2 separate regions of the Homo sapiens genome follow, and region 1 is linked to region 2. Evidence: fine-mapped expression QTL. A gene starts in region 2. The other region holds a variant in brackets. All regions are shown on one strand. Distances are from middle to middle.

The links. PIP is the estimated chance that this variant, and not a neighbour inherited with it, causes the effect.
Region 1: its variant is the best candidate, but not a certain one, in a credible set for the expression of TCP1 in whole blood (INTERVAL, PIP 0.58).

The regions. Positions count from the first base shown.
Region 1 is chr6:159,828,050-159,833,423 of GRCh38, reverse strand. No RefSeq gene overlaps it. Among named protein-coding and RNA genes, the nearest start is that of PNLDC1, 30 kb to the right of the region's middle. RefSeq lists an enhancer at 2,186-2,919. The variant C/A (reference allele first, on the strand shown) is at 2,877.
Region 2 is chr6:159,786,728-159,792,101 of GRCh38, reverse strand. TCP1 (t-complex 1) reads left to right here and starts at 2,500. Exons shown (of 12, transcript NM_030752.3): 1 at 2,500-2,697; 2 at 3,959-4,044; 3 at 4,231-4,359. The coding sequence starts at 2,634. It overlaps MRPL18 (mitochondrial ribosomal protein L18), which reads right to left and starts at 1,635. Exons shown (of 4, transcript NM_014161.5): 1 at 1,463-1,635; 2 at 976-1,162. The coding sequence starts at 1,514. RefSeq lists enhancers at 1,448-1,507, 1,538-1,717, 1,974-2,637, 2,638-3,302.

The sequences.
Region 1 (5,374 bases), 41 kb before region 2:
CAGTAGTCCCAACTACTAAGGAGGCTGAGGCAGGGAGATCACTTGAGCCCAGGAGTTGAAGACTGCAGTGAGCTATGATCATGCCCCTGCACTCCAGCCTGGGCAACAGATTGAGACCCTGTCTCTAATAAAATAAGTGAATAAATACTTTGAATGCTTTTTTCATGCTAGGAGTGTCCAACTCTGCCTTCTGATAGGCTCCACTTGTTTCCTGCCTGCTTGCGCTGATTAGGCATGATGAGTGTGCTTTATGCTGCAGAGGGCCTTCCTTCCCTTACTGCCAGCCAAAGAAGAGAGACACCACCTGTGAAGTATGTGCAATTTCACCCGCCAGTTAAACCTCTTTTCTGCTCCACCCAAAAAATAGCTGAAGGGAAGACGGCCAGGATTGAGGGTGTCCCTTTCAGGAGGTAGCGTCAGACTTCATCAGATCTTGAAGACATTGTGCCTACAGGTCTGGGTGTGGCTAACCATGGACCAGCCTCCAAGGCTTCTCATAAATCCCTGTCAAACTCCTCATGTTGACGTTGAACCCAGGGAAATTACTAGAGCAAACGGTCTCCAAACTATTTCAATCCTATTTCCTTATCACTGAAACAAAGCTGAGGACAAACCCTGGCTGTGCACATGTATTAATAATGTACATACATGTATTCCATGTACTAATATATTGCATATATGATAAAACACACAAAATAAGAAAATTACTATTATTATATTTTTAGACATGGAGTCTCCTTATGTTGCCCAGGCTGATCTCGAACTCCTGGGCTCAAGCAATCCTCCTGCCTCAGCCTCCCAAAGTGTTGGGATTACAGGTGTGAACCATTGTGCCCACAAAATAGGAAATTTAAAGGGAGGGGTGTGCATTGTTAGGGAACCCAGGCACCCTGGCCCTCAGCCTGGCCCTGCAGCTCTGGATGAGGCTCTCATCTCCTTCTTCCACCTTTCTGCTTTCCCTAATCCCCAATAAAGGAGAAACAACAGCATTGTGTCATTCACAGGCACAGAGATAAAACAATTTAGATACAACCAGATGGCAACTCTGATGCATGACAGGTGAAGCCCAAAATTGGGACTTAGCCCGGAAGGGTTCTTGGCTTCCCCCAGGAAAGAATTCAAGAGCTACCCAGTGGTGTTCAACAGCAACTTGTATTGAAGCCACAGCATCCAGGAGCAGCAGAGGCACTGCTCCTTGCGGTACAGGGCACTCTCCAGGAAGTGTGTCCAGAGGAGCAGCTCAGATTTAGGGCTGCACTAATATTTACACCCACTTTTAATTATACATGAATTAGGGGGTGGTTTATGCAGAAATTTCTAGGATGAGGGTGGTAACTTCCTGATCACTGGGTCATTGCCATGGAAAGGCGCAATAATTTTTGGGTGTCGCCATGGCAATGGTAAACTGACATGGCACACTGATGGGTGTGTTTTCTGGAAAACTGCTTCCCCTATAACCTGTTTTAGCTAGTCCTCAGTTTGGCCCGGTGTCTGAGCCCTGCCTCCGGAGTCAAGTCCCACCTTCTACCTCAACTCCACACCTTGGCTCAGGCCAAAACTTTATCATTCTTGACCCCTCTTTCTCTTAACTCCACATTCACTCTGTCAGGACATCATAGCAGCTCCACTGTCAAAATACACCCAGATCTAGAGCCCCTGCACACCTCCCCACTGGGCCACAGCCACCTCTTTTGCCTTCCTCCTTCCCTAGTCAGCCAGACCTTATCACCCTGAGCTGGCAGCCCCTCAATGGCTCACACCTCTGCTGAGAAGTCAAAGCAATCACCAGTGCCTTCTGTGCCCCACCTGACCGGCCCTCCACTTCTTCCCTGGCCTTGGCTCCTGCCTCACCCACCCAAGTTCTCTCAGCCATCCTGGTGGCTGGAGCCTCTTTGCAGGGCCAGGTGCTTCCACTGGGCCCTGGGCCAGACAGCACCTGGAGCTCTGTCCACAGCCGGGCAGGTGTCTCAGCCCTGATCTCTGCCAGGTCTCTGCTCAGGCATCCCCTTCTCTGCGCACCCTGCCTGAGCACTGGAAGGCAGCACCCGACTTCTCCTCCAAGTTTCTCTGTAACCAGCACTTGATCACCTCACAGGCACTCTCATCTCGTTGCTTGTCTAATGACTCCACACAAATGCAAATTCCTGAATCTTTGCTTTAATGGCTGCAGCCGGGGCATCTGGAACAGTGCCTGGTACAGAGCAGGTACATTTGCATGGAATGAAAGCCTGCGCTCCAGGGTCTTCCAGTATAAAACACATGCAGATTTTAGAGACAGGAACAAGCCCAAATTGATCAATAAGGGAATGGGAGAATGAGTGCTTCCCTTCCTTTTCTGTTTTACACAATACAATATTCCTTTTTTAGTCTTTAAAAAACTATAACCTCTGGCTTCCAGGAGTTCAGAACATCCCATCTGACTACGAGCACAGGTCTCAGCAGGGTCACGCAGGCAGTGGCCACTGCTGCTGCTCCACTGGGCTGAGGACACGGCCTCAGCAGCGAGGAAGGTTTGGGCAGCTCCCTGGGATGGGAAAGAAAGCATCTTTACAAGCTCACATGTCAAAGCCTCTGTGCCCTCCACAAACCCAGCCAGAGCCAACTTGAGAACAACTTTATCTGGCTTGTGCTGCCCAGAGAATACTTGTTTTTGGATCTCCACTTTCTCACGATCTTTGGCAGAGCCACATCACACACTGGGGGAGCTCTTCTGAGGATTAGGACTAAGTCTACACCAGGGATTCTCTCCCAGGGGAGAGTAGGGACAGAGTAGGCAGCTGTGTGCCAGAGAGCTCTCCTACTATCTTGCGCTCAGAGCAGGCTCGGCCCGCAGTTCCCCTCACAGTGTCTTCCTCAGAAACACTATTGCCAGCAGG[C/A]AAATGTTTGAATCTGGTTCTTCCTGTAGGAAAAAGGGATAAAGGCAAACAATAGCAAGAGCTGGGGCAGGGATGGGGCAGAATGAGGGACCTCTAGGGGAGCTTCCGAATGCTGAAATCGGGTGAAGCCATCCAGCACCGCGGCAGAGCTTCCAGAACAGCGACGCAGGAGACTGGGTGGATGGTGGGTGCTGGGTCACCGTGGTGGCCACGCAGTCTGCAAGGCCTGTAACCAGCTCAGCCGCATCAGACCCTGCTTCCTGGGCAGGGCTAACCCCACTCACTGCGCAGGGCTAACCCCACTCACTGGGGAGTATGAGGTAGGAATAGCACTTACCTGGGCAGGTGCTTCATCAGTGTGTCGCTGGAGAATGTGGCAGGCAGAATAATGGCTCCCCAAAGATGCCCAGTGCCCACAGCCTAACCCCAGAACCTGTGAGTATAGCACCTGATGTGGCAAGAGGGACTCTACAGACATAATTAAGGGCTTTGAGATGGGGAGTTTATCCAGGGTCATCCGAGGAGGAGGGTCCGCCTAATCACATGGGTCTTAAAGCATGGCAAAGCATTCCCTGCTGTGGTCAGAGGAGACGAAGCTACAGAAAGATCGATCAGAGAGATTCCACATTGCTGCTGCTGAAGATGGAGGAACAGGGCCACGATCCTGGGAATGTTGGTGACCTCTAGAAGCTGGAAAAGGGGAGGAAGCAGCTTCTCTCTGAGGCCTCTGGAAGGGCACACAGCCCTTCCGCCCCGACTTCTTGATTTTAGCCCCGAGAGCTGTGTTGGACTTCTAACCTCCAGAAATGCAAAATGGTAATTGTGTGCTATTTTAAGCCACTACATTTGTGATGACTTGTTACAGCAGGAAACAGGAAACTAATGTAAAGAAGTAGGCATGACTGTGTCCAGTAAAATGCAATTAAATAAGAACTAAAGATATTTCACAGGGCTGTCCCCACAAGCAGGACAAGAGAGCTCTATTTTCAACAAAAAAATTTTAATGCATTTTCATGTTTAAAGTGATAGAAATACATGCTCATTGTAAAAAAAAAAATGGTAAAAAGATCCCTAAATATACAGAAAATAAAACCATATGGTCCACCTACTCTGGGTAGCCCCCACCAAGACTTCTGTGCGTTTTCTTTCAGCTTTAAGTTCACTTTTTTTTTTCTTTTCTTTTTTTTTTTTGGAGACAGGGTCTCACTCTGTCAGGCTAGAGTACAGTGGTGCGTGATCTTGGCTCACTGCAACCTCTACCTCCCAGGCTCAAGTGGTCCTCCCACCTCATTCTCCTGAGTAGCTGGGACCACAGGTGGGTACCATGATGCCCGGCTAACTTTTTGTATTTTTGGTAGAGATGGGGTTTTGCCATGTTGCCCAGCCTGGGATGGAACTCCTGAGCTCAGGCAATCCAACTGCCTCAGCCTAAATGCTGGAATTACATGTGTGAGCCACTGTGCCTGGCCTTTAAGTTCACTTTCATTTTTTATTTTTTGAGATGGAGTTTCACTCGTCGCCCAGGTTGGAGAGCAGTGGCGCGATCTCAGCTCACTACAGCCTCCGCCTCCTGAATTCAAGTGATTCTCCTGCTTCAGCCTCCTGAGTAGCTGGGATGACAGGCACTCACCACCACACCCAGCTAATTTTTGTGTTTTTCTTTAGTAGATACGGGGTTTCACCATGTTGGCCAAGCTGGTCTTGAACTCCTGACCTCAGGTGATCTACCTGCCACGGCCTCCCAAAGTGCTGAGATTACAGGCGTGAGCTACCACGCATGGCCGATTTCACTTTTAAAATATAACTGTCATCACTCAGATGCTAAGTTCTATGTACTAATTTTTTAAAAATAGTACATTTCTGGTTTTGAAGGGATGCACACTCAAGATTTTTATAGTACAGAAAAATATATGACAAAGAAATTCGAAATCACCAGGAGCCCCTCGAGAGATAACATTTTAACATATTTTATTAGTCTTTTTAAAGGATAACTGAGAATACCTTATATAGTACACCTTTTCTTGCCTACACAGGAATAATCACAGGTGTTAGAAGAGGGGAGAGATGATTGATTACAGGTTATTAGTGTTTCCTGCCAACCACCACCATCCCCCAGATTCCATCACAGAACAACAGTCCGAGTTATTTAAAGGTCAGCAATCCAAAGATCCAGATCACTCGAGTTCTTTGGCCATAAAAACAGGCAGCAGATGATGCTTGATATGGTTTGGCTCTTTGCCCCACCTAAGTGTCACGTGGAATTGGAATCCCCAGTGTTGGGGGAGGGGCCTGGTGGGAGACGATTGGATCCTGGGGGTGAACGGCCCCCTGCTGCTCTTGTGCTAGTGAGTTCTCTGGTTGTTTAAAGGAGTGTGGCACCTCCCCCTTCTGTCTTCCTCCTGCTCCAGCCATGTAAGATGTGCGGGCTTCCCCTTCGCCTTCTGCCATGATTTTGTTTCCTGAGGCCTCCCCAGCCATGTTACCAGTACAGTCTAGGG
Region 2 (5,374 bases):
TATAACTGCTTCATGATGTAATTTTAAGGATTAAATGAGAAAAAACATATAAAGCAAGTAGCATAATTCCTGGCAAATGTAAGTGTTCATTAAACAACCACCTTTATAACAAAGTATCTCAAGTCATACTAGACTCCTAACTGGTCTTTCTTCAAGTCCTGCTCCCTCAAAAATTTAATCTTCCAAAAAGCAGCTAAAATGATTTTTTTTTTTTTGAGACAGAATTTTGCTCTGTCGCCCAGGCGCTCAGCTCACTGCAACCTCCGCCTCCTGGGTTCAAGTGATTCTCGTGCCTCAGCCACTGGAGTAGCTGGGATTACAGGCGTGCACCACCACGCCCCTCTAATTTTTATATTTTTAGTAGAGACGGGGTTTCACCATGTTGGCCAGGTTGGTCTCAAACTCCTGACCTCAGATGATCCGGCTTCTTCGGCTGGCTCCCTAAAGTGCTGGGATTACAGGCATGAGACAATGCGCCCAGCCAGAATGATCTTGAAAAACCAATTCGGGCTCAAGCTTTAAATCCTCTCGTAGTTTCCCACTATAATGAAAAGAAAGTCTAAAGTGCTCATCTTGACTTACAAAGCTAATCATCTGTCGCCTCCTTACCCCTCCATGTTCATCTTGGGCCATTCATCCTCTGCCCATTGAGCTTCAGATCCACAAGCCCTTCAGTTCCTCACCCCAGCAGTTTCCTTTGCTAGGACTGCTCTTTCTGGCAGATGACTAGGCTTCTTCCTCTTTCAGATCTCACCTTCTTAAATGTCACCTCAGACAGGCAGGTATCCTGTCCGCTACTGTAACATCCTCTTTAAATAGCCCCCATCACACCTATTTGTTGTTTGTTCCAGCCCCTCCGCGAACCCTGCCTCTACCCGCCGCATGGCAGCTACCTGGGAGAGTGCCTGGAGTTGAATGAATGAAAATAGTCTGTAGGGTGCACTGCCCTTGTCAATCACAAGCAGATTTAATTACCTGTGCCAGAACTCACGGGAGGGAAACACCGTCCGCCAGCCCCGCTCTTTCCTGGCTACAGATAAAAGCTCCAGGTTCCGGGGGTTCCGGTTGGTGAATTCTGGGGCGACAGCTTCATTTTCCACAGGGTCCACTTCAGGTTTCGCTGCCGGCTCGGAGCTGGTTGACAGGGCTGCGAACCTGCACCCTGGGCAACGGGAAAAACCGCACAGGGCTTAAAAATGACGGATATGGACAGCGCACGAACCCGCTCTAACGTCTATCCGCTTTTACACCCCCAATCTTTAGGCCCGAGGGGACGAAAAATACGTATGCCCACAGGGTGGAGTCAGCACTGACCCCGTCCTTAACTTCCTACTGTGGTCTTCGCAGTGCCGCGAGCTCTATTTCGATCCGGCACGTCGAATACAAAATAGAACCCGCACGTTCCAATGTACTGTGCAAGCCCAGGCGAGTGAGCTGGGAGAAGGGGGGCAAGACTAATTACCAGGGTTCCTGCAAACCGAGAACAACCCCCAAAACCGCGACCGAAGCGCCATCGCTGAGACGATCTCGGAAAAGCCTCGCCTCTTTTTCCTCACGGACGACTCAGTCGCTCGCCAGGAGCAGCCATATAAAGTCAGGGACAAGCCTTTGGCTGCTGTAGATCCCCAAACTCTCCACGCCAGACGCCACCGACCCGGAAGTAGCAAGTCCCCTGCCACTGAGTGGCCGAGAAGGCGATCTGTTATCCTTCATCGCCAATCATCGCTCACGTCGAGGGGCACGCAGGCCCTGGAGCCCACCAACCACCTCGTAGCTACGCCCAAGACCACGCTTGTTGCTTAAGTCCGGGGTCAAAGGCACACACCCCACAAAACCATGTTTGGGTTTTCTACTCGGAGAGCTTGGGCGGTCATCGACTGGTCCACACACACCCCACCTGGGCACCGCGTAGGAATAAGGCAGGGCAAGATGCAGTTTTCTCCTTAAAAAGGGTGGTTGTCTTCCTCGAACCAAAAATTTTCCCGTATGGCCCGCTGGAAAAACTGCCCCGTCCCACCCAGGTTCGCGCCCTTAAACTTACACTCCTGAGGCCTGGAGCAAAGCCGGCCGATCTGCCTCACGCTCCCCGAGCAGGGACAAGGAAAAGACACTAAACCTAAAACGCACGACTCGCTCAGAACCCCAACTCTAACTTGGAGAAGGGCCCGCCCCTCCAGTTACACCCCAGCTCCAAGCTCCACCCTTCTTACAACCTTTTCTAGAAGGCACTAGAATGGCCCACTGCGTCTGCGCAACATCGTTTGAGGCGAAGGTTCAACCTCTTCCCAGCGGTCCAACATCCGACTTCCGTTCTCCGCTTTCGCGCCCTTCCCATCGGCTATCTAATTGGACAAAAATGCCGACCCCGCCCCTTCCCCGGAGCCTCACTTCCGTCACAGTCCTGTTTCTCTCCCTGTTGTCCCTGCCTCTTTTTCCTTCCCGCCGTGCCCCGCGGCCGGGCCGGGGCAGCCGGGAAGCGGGTGGGGTGGTGTGTTACCCAGTAGCTCCTGGGACATCGCTCGGGTACGCTCCACGCCGTCGCAGCCACTGCTGTGGTCGCCGGTCGGCCGAGGGGCCGCGATACTGGTTGCCCGCGGTGTAAGCAGAATTCGACGTGTATCGCTGCCGTCAAGATGGAGGGGCCTTTGTCCGTGTTCGGTGACCGCAGCACTGGGGAAACGATCCGCTCCCAAAACGGTAAGGGCGGGCCGGGCCTGGGTCGGGTTTGCGGCCGGGGAGGGCCGAGTCCCACCGCGACCGGACCCCGGCTGCCCTCGTTTCTCTCCTTTACCTCCGCAGAAAGGGCCTCGGGGCCCCGCAGCCGGACCCAGCCCACCCGCCGTTCTCTGGGGCAGGGCGCTGTGGCCCCACTTTTCCCACAGCGAGGAGGAGCCCCGCCGCGCGCGGCAGGGTTTTGAGACCGGCAACGCGTGGATGTGGTGTCCGGGGCGGCGTTGGAAACGCGCCCTCCGCGGGAAAGCGGGCCTCCCGGGCTCGCACGTGCGGGCCACGCCTCGCACCCCCTTTTGTTTCAGGGCGACCCCCTGAGTGTCCATGTTAAACGCCAGGTTTTATTTTAGGACCATTTACCAGAAAAAGAGTAGGTCCATCCGCGCGCCCTCGGATGAGCCCGGTGCCCTGTCCGCCCGCAGCTGCAGTCGAGGTCGGGCGTCCGGCGTCCAGCCGTATCCGGGTTGACAGCTTCTTACAGTAGAGTTAGCCCAGGAAACGCCACTCGAGTGCATTGACCCCAGGAGACGGCAGCGCTAACTTAGCAGAGCGTTTGCTGTCAGGCCTTTGGATACCTACAGAGCTTACTGTTTCTTGATAGATTCCTAATTTTTTTCGTAAACAAATCTGAAAGTCACCACCTTCCCCGTTGACTACCGATTTCTCTCCTCACAGATAAAGAGAGTTTTAATGAGCAAAAAACTTGCAGAATCTGAAGGAAAAGGCTGGTATAGCTGTACGAAGTGGCAGAGCATGAAATTGGTGGTTATTACTTTTTTTTTTTTTCCCCGCCATCAGATTCCACCCCGCATCAAAGCTGTGCCAAATAGGCTCGCTTTGTTTAGGGACAGGGTCCCACCTGTCGCCCAGACGAGAGTGCCATCATAGCTCACTGCATTCTCCAAGCACAGGTCCGCGCCGCCGCATCCGGCTTTGTTTTTATTTTTTGTAGAAATGGGTTTCGCTATGTTGCCCAAAGGGGTCTCAAACTCCTGGCATCAAGCGATCCTCCTGCCTCGGCCTCGCAGTGTTGGGATTACACCTGTGAGCCACAGTGTCTGGCCCCATTTACACTCTTAGTAGGTGGTTTTTAAATAATTAACACAGATTTGTAGATTTGGGAAATACGGGGGCTGTTGGATGTCATTTACCTTTAGGCTGAAATTACTGTCTTTCAGAGTTGTGGCTTATCCTCATTTCTTTTTTATTTTTAATTGATTGTCTACAGTTATGGCTGCAGCTTCGATTGCCAATATTGTAAAAAGTTCTCTTGGTCCAGTTGGCTTGGATAAAATGTTGGTGGATGATATTGGTGTAAGTACACATAACTGTTGTGTTAGTTTCCTTAAAGTAAAACTATCTTCAGTGTTTTGCTATGTTCTTTCTTTGACTTTATCAGAATCCACGTACTGGAAGGTGATATTAAAGGTGAACGTGTATTATAATGGGGCTGTGTTGATTTCTATAAGTGGTTCATATTTTTTCCTGCGAATTTCTTAGGATGTAACCATTACTAACGATGGTGCAACCATCCTGAAGTTACTGGAGGTAGAACATCCTGCAGCTAAAGTTCTTTGTGAGCTGGCTGATCTGCAAGACAAAGAAGTTGGAGATGGAACTACTTCAGTGGTAGGTAGACTGGCTAAAGAATGATCATTTTTCTAAAAACGACCGACTTTCAGAAAGTTGAAGCCATAAGTGGGTCATTTGTGCTGTGTCAGAAATAAGTTACATATTCTGAATGCCCAGAAGATTGAGCAAGAAGAAAAAACAAAAGAAGTTACACATTTAAGAGGGGAAATAAGCTTCTTAGGTACAGATTCAGAAACAAAATTTGTAAGTTGATAGTTACAGCTAGTTTGTACAGTTTAAGTAGGAAAGAATTTGAGTTCATTTGACATAGCCCCATTGTTTTAAATGTTGGTATTCACAAGTTTTGAGGGCTTATTTTTCCTTTTATGGCAGTATTCAGACATCACACAGATTTTTTTATGGTCTCTCAAAAGTCTTGTTTCCTCCCCCATCACCCCTTGAGACTTGGAAAGCTCTCAACTTTTCTGATTATTTGGAGGATAAAATGTTACCAATCTGGGGGAGAAACAATGTTTTTATATTATTATTTTTAAGAGACCATCTGTAGCACAGTCTGAAGTGCTGCAGTGCTGTCATATCTCACTGCAGCCTGGAACTCCTGGGTTCAAGCAATCCTCCTGCCTTAGCCTCCCAGAGTGCTTGGGATTGCAGGCATGTGCCACCACAAGCAACTAATTAAAAACCTCTTTTTTTTTTTTTTAAGAGACAGGGTCTCGCTATGTTGCCCAGGCTGGTCTTGAACTCCTGGCCTCAAGTGATCCTCCCTTCTCGGCCTCTGTAGTGCTGGGATTACACGCATGAGCTGCACTCAGCCTGTTCTATTTTTTAAATCCTGACAGGTAATCTCAGGAATTCAAAATGGGAGTGTGAGAAATTAATAAATACATCATGATATGACAGTGTGATCTTACCGAGTCAGTAAATGTGATACACAGTATAAACTCTTCATAGATCATCCAGCATGCTGGTATAGTAGAAACACTATTGTTTGGTGAGAAAGATGTTAATTCTGGAGAAACTAGATAGTTTGTGGGGAAAATGTATTTCTAGA